Linked DNA regions of Homo sapiens: all the other regions are linked to region 2. The links come from fine-mapping of genetic effects on plasma protein levels. A gene starts in region 2. Each other region holds a variant in brackets. All regions are shown on one strand. Distances are from middle to middle.

Region 1 (2,761 bases), 32 kb before region 2:
GCTGCAGTGCAGTGACACAATCATAGCTTACTACATCCTAGACCTCCTGGGCTCAGGCGATCCTCCCACCTCACCCACTCAAGTATCTGGGACTATAGGTGGACACCACTATCCTGGCTAATTTTTAAAATTTTTTATAGAGACAGGGTCTCACTATGTTGCCCAGGCTGGTCCTGTACTCCTGGCCTCAAGCAATCCTCCCACCTCGGCCTCCCAAAGTACTGGGATTATAGGTGTGAACCACTGTGCTTGGCCAATTGTCAATATTTTTACCTTAAAGTGTACTGTACAAAAATATGAAAATACAAGCCAGGTGTGGTAGCTTATATCTGTAATCCTAGCACTTTGGGAAGTTGAGGTGGGAGGATGGCTTGAAGCCAGGAGTTCGAGACCAGCCTGGAAAACATAGTGAGATATCGTTTCTACAAAAAATTTTTAAAATACACACACACAAAAAATATAAGCCAGGCTTGGTGGTGCCCACCTGTAGTCCCACCTATTCAGGCGGCTGAGGCAGGAGGATGGCTTGAGCCCAGAAGTTTGAGGCGGCAGTGAGCTAGGATTGTGTCACTGCACTCCAACCTGGACGACAGAGCAAGACTCTGTCTCAAAAAAAAAAAAAAAAAAAAAAAAAGAAGAAAGAAAAGAAAAAGAAAATACAGATAAATAAATGATAAAACAACTACAGATAATGTTTGTTAACTGATTGCTATATTTATAGTCTTCTAACATATTTTCTATATACCCAAAAACTATATCTCTTTTTAAAAAGTGATGATTTCTAAGTGCAATTTACTTAACATAGGTAATAAATAACTTTTTCTGTCATTAAATTTGCATTATCATCAGTTTCAATGGCTACAGTGTATTCTATTTCATGGTCTTATCGTAATTCATTCAGCTATCCTCTTACATTGCACATTTAGTATATTTCCAATTGTTCATTCTCAAAGCTGTGAATTGCTGGCCAAAAGGGAATCAGCATTTTAAGGGCTTTTGATTCAGGATGCCAAATTCCTTCCAGAAAGAGTTATCTGGGCTAAAAAGGTGAGGCAACTAGCAGGGAGATTCATAAAATATATAGTAAGTGTTAGAAGCCTGATGGCCATGAGGGCCTCAAACCCCCTAAAAGGCTGCAAAGAGAGTCAGGGAGGAGCCACAGCCTCCCAAGCTGAGAGGGTCAGGCTGCAGACAGACCCAAGCTCTGGGTCTCCACTCACCTGTGCACAGACCTTCGGGGGCTCTGGGGGCTTCTCATCCTGCTCTTCCATGCTCTCCTCCAGGCACAGCAGGGTGCTGAGGTCCTGAGCTGCACTGAGAGAAGCCCCAAGTACAGCATGAAGATGTAGGTCTGCCGGAACCGCTGGGCCCCCCACCCCCATTAGCCCCTGCTCCCAGGATGCAGGATGCATTCCCATAGCAAATGCACTTCTGGAGGTTCCTGCCAGCTTCCTGCCCAAATACCTGTGTATGTACTGAGAGTCCCTCAGTCCCTCTCCCAGG[T/C]CAAGTTTCTGCAGCTCCAACCTGGTTCCTCCACCATCTTGGGCCCCTGGACCATCTACCTGTAAGCCCAGCTTGTGCCCAACATGGCCTTCTGCCCACCACCAAAGTCTGCAGCACCAGTCCATCCCTCTCCTATTCACTGGGCCCTGGGATCCCCACAAATATCAGGCATATTGAGGACCCCCTGGTGTTCACCCCATCCTACCCCTACCAACCTCAATCTACAGCCCCAAACCAGCACTTCTTCCTAGGGCCAGAATCACACTCACTGCCTAACTGCATGAAGCTGGTGACACAGCTCCACTGCTCCCAGGAACTGATTCAACAACTAAGACTGATCCTACCGTTCCATCAGCCAGACCTGTCCCTCCAGCAACTCAGCACAGAGGGCCACCCACATCCTGCTCAAATAGCCAAGCATTTATGCACAGAGCTCAGCTATACCCACATCCTGTTCCCTCCACACTTCTGGGGTCCACTGGCTCCTACTCGAACAGCACCAGCCAGATTCCCACCCTAACACCCTCCCAGGCCCTGAATTTGTAGCTCTAAACCAGTCCCTCCACCAACTTGGGTATACTCAGGCCTGAAACTACAACAAGGCCTGCATAGGGCTGGGGGCCTCCAACAGACACCAGCACAAGCCAGACAAAAGCAGCCCTACCCAGGCTCTAAATACATGTCTCAGAAGCTCAGGTGCCTCTGTACCAACTAGGTGTTTTGGGATCCAAGACTAGAGGGCAAATCCTACCCTAGGCACCCCACCCTCTGCACTCCATCTCTCCCACTTACTCTCTCCCCTGCTCCCACCATATTCTCACGCAGCATAGCGTAGGTTCACAATGCAGCTGTTTCCTGAAATTGCACCCAAACTGTTTCCTCCACCTTACTCCACAGCCCCCTGCTTGAGCCACACCTGCCCAGATTCTGACCAAACATCTTTCGGGGGCACCTGTGGCTCAGGAAGATCCTGTCTTTCCACCAAACTGGGCACCATCAGGCTGTGATCAGGGTTCCAATCACACAAAGACCCCAGCACCCTCTGTCTAAAACTCATCTCCGGCCTCCTGTTTCCCAACCAAACACCGGTGTGTGTGCACAAGGGGTGCCTGACACAGTCCCGCCCCTCTGCAGCTGCTCCCCCCCACACACCTGGGCATCCTCAGGCAGAATCAGGGTCCTAGGACTGCCCATGCCTCCCCAATCTGCCCAAATGCCAGCACACGTGCAGAGTGTTGCTGGAGCAGCCCCGTGCCTC
Region 2 (2,761 bases):
CTGTCTCCCTCTCTTTCTGCCCCTTCCTGTTTTTCCCACTGGTATCTCTTTCTTTCTTTTCTTTCTTTCTTTTCTTTCTTTCCTTTCTTTCTTTCCTTTCTTTCTTTCCTTTCTTTCTCTCTCTCCCTTTCCCTCTTTCTTTCTTCTTTTTCTTTTTTTTGACAGAGTCTTACTCTGTCACACAGGCTGGAGTGTAATGGCACAATCTCGGTTCACTGCAACTTCTGCCTCCCAGGTTCAAGCAATTATCTGCCTCAGCCTCCCGAGTAGCTGGGATTACAGGTGCCCGCCACCACACTCAGCTAATTTTCGTATTTTTAGTAGAGACGGTTTCACCATCTTGGCTAGGCTGGTCTTGAACTCCTGACTGCGTGATCCACCCGCCTTGGCCCCCCAAAGTGCTGGGATTACAGGCGTGAGCCACTGTGCCTGGGCCCCACTGGTATCATTTCTAAGGTTATTTTTTCACCCTTTGTCTCTGTCTCTGTGCGTATCTCTTCTCCCTGTATTTCTCTCTCTTTCTCCCTGGGTCTCTGGTTCTGTGGCTGTGACTCCATCTTTCTCTGTCTCTCTCTCTTTCTCTGTGTACACAGACACACAAACACACATCTTTGTCTTTCTCTCTTGTCTCTGGTCTCTGTTTATGTCTCCTTCTGTCAGTCTCTTGCATCTGTATTTTTTTCTGTCTCTGTCTCTCTGTGTCTGTTTCTCTCTCTGCCTCTGTCACTCTTTCCTCAAGTATACACACACACACACACACCACTGACAAATATACATATATCTTTGTCTCTCTGTCTCTGGTCTCTGTTTATGTCTCCTTCTATCTCTTTTGTATCTATGTTTATTTCTGTATTTCTCTCTTTCTTTCTTTTTTTTTTTTTTTTTTTTGAGACAGGGTCTTGCTGTGTCACTCAAACTAGAGTGCTATGGTGTCATCTCAGCTCACTGCAGCTTCCACCTCCGAGTTCAAGGTTCAAGTGATTCTCCTACCTCAGCCTCCCAAATAGCTGGGACTATAGGAGTGTACCACCACACCCAGCTAATTTTTGTATTTTTAGTAGAGACGGGGGTTTGCCATGCTGGCCAGGCTGGTCTCAAACTCCTGGCCTCAAGTGATCCACCCACCTCGGCCTCCCAAAGTGCTGGGATTACAGATGTGAGCCACCACGCCTGGCCCTATCTTTATATCTGTATCTGTCTTTATTTCTGTCTCTGTCTCTGTGTCTCTATTTTTTTTCTCTGCCTCCATCTCTTTTTCCTCGAGTGCACACACACACACACACACACACACACACACACACACACACCGCTGACAAATAGATGCATACAACCTCCCTCCTCCCGCATCTGAAGGAAGCAGGGCACTCACCTGAAAGCAGGATTCCCATCCAGTGGTGTCCCCATGAGTCAGCAGGCCCCATGGGTCCCGGCACCTGACTTCAGTGTGCCAGGCCGTCTGTCGCCCCGGCTTGCACACACAGATACAGTCCTCACTCCAGGTGCAGCCCCTCCACCTCCCTTCTCTCCTCTCCCACCCTGCTACAAACTCACACACACACTGCAGTAACTGCAGCTCCCAGGACAGACAGGGGTGGTGGCAGGAAAGTAACTTTGACCCCACCTCTGCCCTCTACCCCCAGGGCTCACTTTCCTTCCCTGCCCAGCACAAAGAGCGGGAAGTCCAGGAACCCTGGAGACCGGGAACTGCGATTACGATAGTCAATAGCAATGATAATAAAAAACAACAATGACCAGCTCCTTGTCCCCGAGAGCTTAATAACCAGTCCCAGTGCCAAGTTCATTATAAGCAGCCAATAAATATTAAATGAGCCGGAATCATGCTTGTGATATAGATCCTGGTCATAAACAAAAGCTCTGGAGTCAGACCGGCAGGAATCTCAGACTGAGCAGGACTGGGGGACCTCCAGGAGGAGCCTGACGTGGTCTTGGGAGAAGGGGCAGGGAGGGCCTCCTGGAGGAGTGGACATCTGAGCTGAAACTTCGAGAACATAGTAAAGGTTCCATATATAAAAGTTACTTAAAAAAAAATCTCTATGACAAGACAAGCTGGTGGTCTTTGACAGTGTATAGACCTAGACCCAGAAGATTTAACAGAACCGACCAGCTGAGGGAACTATCATTAATCCATGTATCCATCCATTAATTTAACAAATACTTCCTGAATTCTCTTCCTTTTTTTTTTTTTTGAGATGGAGTCTTGCTCTGTTGCCCAGGCTGGAGTGCAGTGGCATGATTTCCCCTCCCTGCAACCTCCACCTCCCAGGCTCAAGTAATTCTCCTGCCTCAGCCTGCCTAGTAGCTGCAACTACAGGCGTGCGCCTCCACACCCAGCTAATTTTTGTATTTTTAGTAGAGACGGAATTTCACCACGTAGCCCAGGCTGGTCTTCAACTCATGAGCTCAAGCAATCCGCCCGCCTCAGCCTCCCGAAGTGCTGGGATTACAGACGTGAGCCGTCGCGCCCAGTCCTGAATTCTCTCCTATGCTGACCCCTGCTCCTGGTGGTACTGGGGACACAGCTCTGACTAAGACAGCCCCAACCCTGTTCTCACAGAGGCTCACAGTCCAGTGGGGGAGACAGAACTGTCCCCAGACAGTGACAACCCAGAGTGGGCAGGGCTGGGATGGAGGAATTCAAAGGGGGCGCCTGGCTCAGCTTCAGGATCAGGGAGAGCTTCCTGGAAGAGGGGACATGGTAGCTGAGACCTGAACAACATAGGGGTGAGCCAGGGGGAGCAGC
Region 3 (2,761 bases), 10 kb before region 2:
TCATGCCACTGCACTCCAGCCTGGGCGACAGAGCAAGATTCCATCTCAAAAAAAAAAAAAAAAGAAAAAAAACTGCCTTTGTAAAAGTTAATTCAAAGAAGTGTTTTAGGTCACCCAGGCATCAGAAATTGTTGCTAGGCCAAGCGCAGTGGCTCACACCTGTAATCTTAGCACTCTGGGAAGCCGAGGTAGGTGGATGTGAGTGGAACTCCTGAGACCAGGAGTTCAAAACCAGCCTGACCAGTGTGGCGAATCACGTCTCTACTGAAAAATAAAAATAAAAACTAGCTGGATGTGGTAGCACATGCCTGTAATTGCAGCTACTCGAGTGGCTAAGAATCACTTGAACCTGGGAGGCCGAAGTTGCAGTGAGGCAAGATTGTGCCACTGCACTCCGTCCTAGGTGATAGAGTGAGACTCAAAAGGAAAGAGGAAAGAAAGAAAGAAAGAAAGAAAGGAAGGAAGGAAGGAAGGAAGGAAGGAAGGAAGGAAGGAAGGAAGGAAGGAAGGAAGGAAGGAAGAAAGCAGGCAGGCAGGCAGGCAGGCAGGCAAGAAGGAAGGAAGGAAGGAGAGAGAGAGAGAGAGAAAGGAAGGAAGGAAGGAAGGAAGGAAAGGAGGGAAATTGTGGCTGCGTCCTGTGTATATAATCCCTAACTTCTAGTACTGTGTATTCTCAATGGTATAAACACGTGCAAATTTTCTTTGTAATGTCAGAGGGGATCATTGTCACTTTTCTCTTCCACCACATATAAGAAGGAAACAAATGAAAGTAGTTGTTGGATTTCTCATATAAATTAAAAGAGTTTAGGCCTGGGGCTGAGGCTCATGCCTGTAATCCCAGCACTTTGGGAGGCTGAGGCAGGGAGATCACTTGAGTTCAGGGATTCAAGACCAGCCTACGCAACATAGTAAGACCCTGTCTCTATTTAAAAAAAAAAACCTAAAAGAGTTTAAGAGTCATACTTTATTTAAATTAATGTAAAATACTGGAAAGGATGCAAAAGGTTGCTAAT[T/C]GAGACATTCTAGGAGGGGAGGAATACCCTGACTCTGCTCCCTCCTAAACATCATTTGAACCTGCTCATTTCTCCCCATCCTGACCCCATTGACACTTGGATCCTTCACCTGCATCCCAGCTCCTCCTGGTCTCCCCATCCCAGTCTCATCCTCCACACAGCAGCCAGAGAAGTCTTCCTAAGTACTAAAGTGTCACTGTCCCTCCTGTGTTCAGAACCCTCTGTGGCTCCCCAGTGCCCTTGGGACAAAGCCTATGTCTGAAGAGGCCATTTACAATTTGATTCTTACAGACCCCCTCCAGCCCCACCTTTCCACACCTCTTGCTCTCATTCAGGAATTAAATCCCACTCGGAGATTCCATCCTTGTTACACTCTCTCTTGCCTCAAGGCCATCGCACACTCTCTTCCCTCTGTCTAGAATGCTCTTCCCTGACTCTGCTCTAAGCAGCCTACTCCTACTCATCCTTCAGCTCTTATGGTGGACATCCCCATTCATGATGACCCTTTGCAACATCCCCCAGATGGAGGCTTCCTTTGGGCTCCCCATACCCTCCCTTTGTCCCCCGGGGTCCCATTTATCATGCTATGTTTTATCTGCCTGCTTAGTGACCTCCCCATCCCCAGCAGGCTGTGAAAGCTGAAAATCATGTCAAGTATCAAATGCCCAACATGTTGCTTAGCACAGAGAGAGCACAAAACATATATTTTTGGTTTAATGACTGAATTGAAAAGGAAAGAGGAGTGAGCAACAGAGAAGTGTAAAGAGGAGCAAAGACATGTACTCAACCCCTACCTCTGTGTTCCCTACTGCTTCGCATGTATGAAAGTGCACCCCTCCTTTCTCTCCCTGCAGAAACCTCTTCTCCCCCAATCTTCTCCATCTTGGTTCGTGACTCCTACATCCTTTCGGTGGCTCAGGCAATAAACCTTACAGTCATTCTTGACTCCTTTCTTTCTCTTTCACCTAATATCAGTCAGCAGCATATTCAAAATACATCCACAGTGCAACCATTTCTCAACACCCGACAGTTGCCATTCTGGTCCAGCCCTATCATCTCTTGCTGCGCAACTCTGGCCACCAGGAGAAGCTCTTCAAAGACCTCCAACGGCAGAAATGTAATTGACCAAGGGCCCAATTGCTGTGCCCCCAAATCTACTCCCAGCCCTTCCACAGGCTGCACCCTGCCAGTACCTGAGTGCATCCAGGAAACTAAGGCAGGCCCCTTCCTGGGAGATATGGAAGGTCCCAACAGCCATGATGGGTGTTCCTTCAAGTGCATGGTTATCCAGGTGCTTCCATTCAAGTCTCTGTCCCTCACCCTGTCACTCGGGGTCACACTTGCATCTCAGTCTCTCAGTCTGATGGCTCTCCCAGCCTCCCTGCAGCTGCCTCCCTAGTTATCCTCACAGGAGCATTTCCCCTAATAAAACCCTTGCATGAATAATCCCGTTAATCCCACCTTGGGGTCTGCTTCTCCAAGGATCTGGACAAATACAACTCCTTCTCTCACTCCCCCTCTCCCCCACTTCTATGTTTGCCTCCCTGTAGACAAAGGCCAGTGAGACCCTGTGAAAGCCTAAATCTGGTGGTGTCCCTAAGCCTTATCACCTGCTTCTCTGTTTATGGTCTGGCTTCTCCACTAGAACATAAGCCCCCTGAGGGCAGGCACTTGGCCCTGTCCAGTGCCCAGATTCATGCCTGACACAGAGCAGGAGCTCAATAATCATAGCATGAATGACTAGAAGG

Which allele goes with the higher level. Alleles are on the strand shown, and positions count from the first base shown. The strength of an association depends on the size of the effect and on how common the allele is.
For the plasma level of the protein whose gene starts at base 1,587 in region 2, T is the low allele of the variant in region 1 and C is the other (strong association).
For the plasma level of the protein whose gene starts at base 1,587 in region 2, C is the low allele of the variant in region 3 and T is the other (strong association).

What was found. PIP is the posterior inclusion probability: the model's chance that the variant is causal. The UK Biobank Pharma Proteomics Project read protein levels with antibody pairs (Olink). The fine-mapping took linkage between variants from a reference panel, not from the people measured, so its PIPs are less certain.
Region 1: its variant is fine-mapped to the plasma level of the CEACAM20 protein (UK Biobank, PIP above 0.99).
Region 3: its variant is fine-mapped to the plasma level of the CEACAM20 protein (UK Biobank, PIP above 0.99).

Annotation. Positions count from the first base shown.
Region 1 is chr19:44,496,064-44,498,824 of GRCh38, forward strand. It overlaps ZNF180 (zinc finger protein 180), which reads right to left. Exons shown (of 5, transcript NM_001278509.3): 2 at 1,221-1,314. The coding sequence starts at 1,271. Among named protein-coding and RNA genes, the nearest start is that of ZNF180, 3.1 kb to the right of the region's middle. The variant T/C (reference allele first, on the strand shown) is at 1,504.
Region 2 is chr19:44,528,089-44,530,849 of GRCh38, forward strand. CEACAM20 (CEA cell adhesion molecule 20) reads right to left here and starts at 1,587. Exons shown (of 12, transcript NM_001102597.3): 1 at 1,370-1,587. The coding sequence starts at 1,421.
Region 3 is chr19:44,517,650-44,520,410 of GRCh38, forward strand. All of the region lies in intron 5 of CEACAM20 (CEA cell adhesion molecule 20), which reads right to left. Among named protein-coding and RNA genes, the nearest start is that of CEACAM20, 11 kb to the right of the region's middle. The variant T/C (reference allele first, on the strand shown) is at 1,014.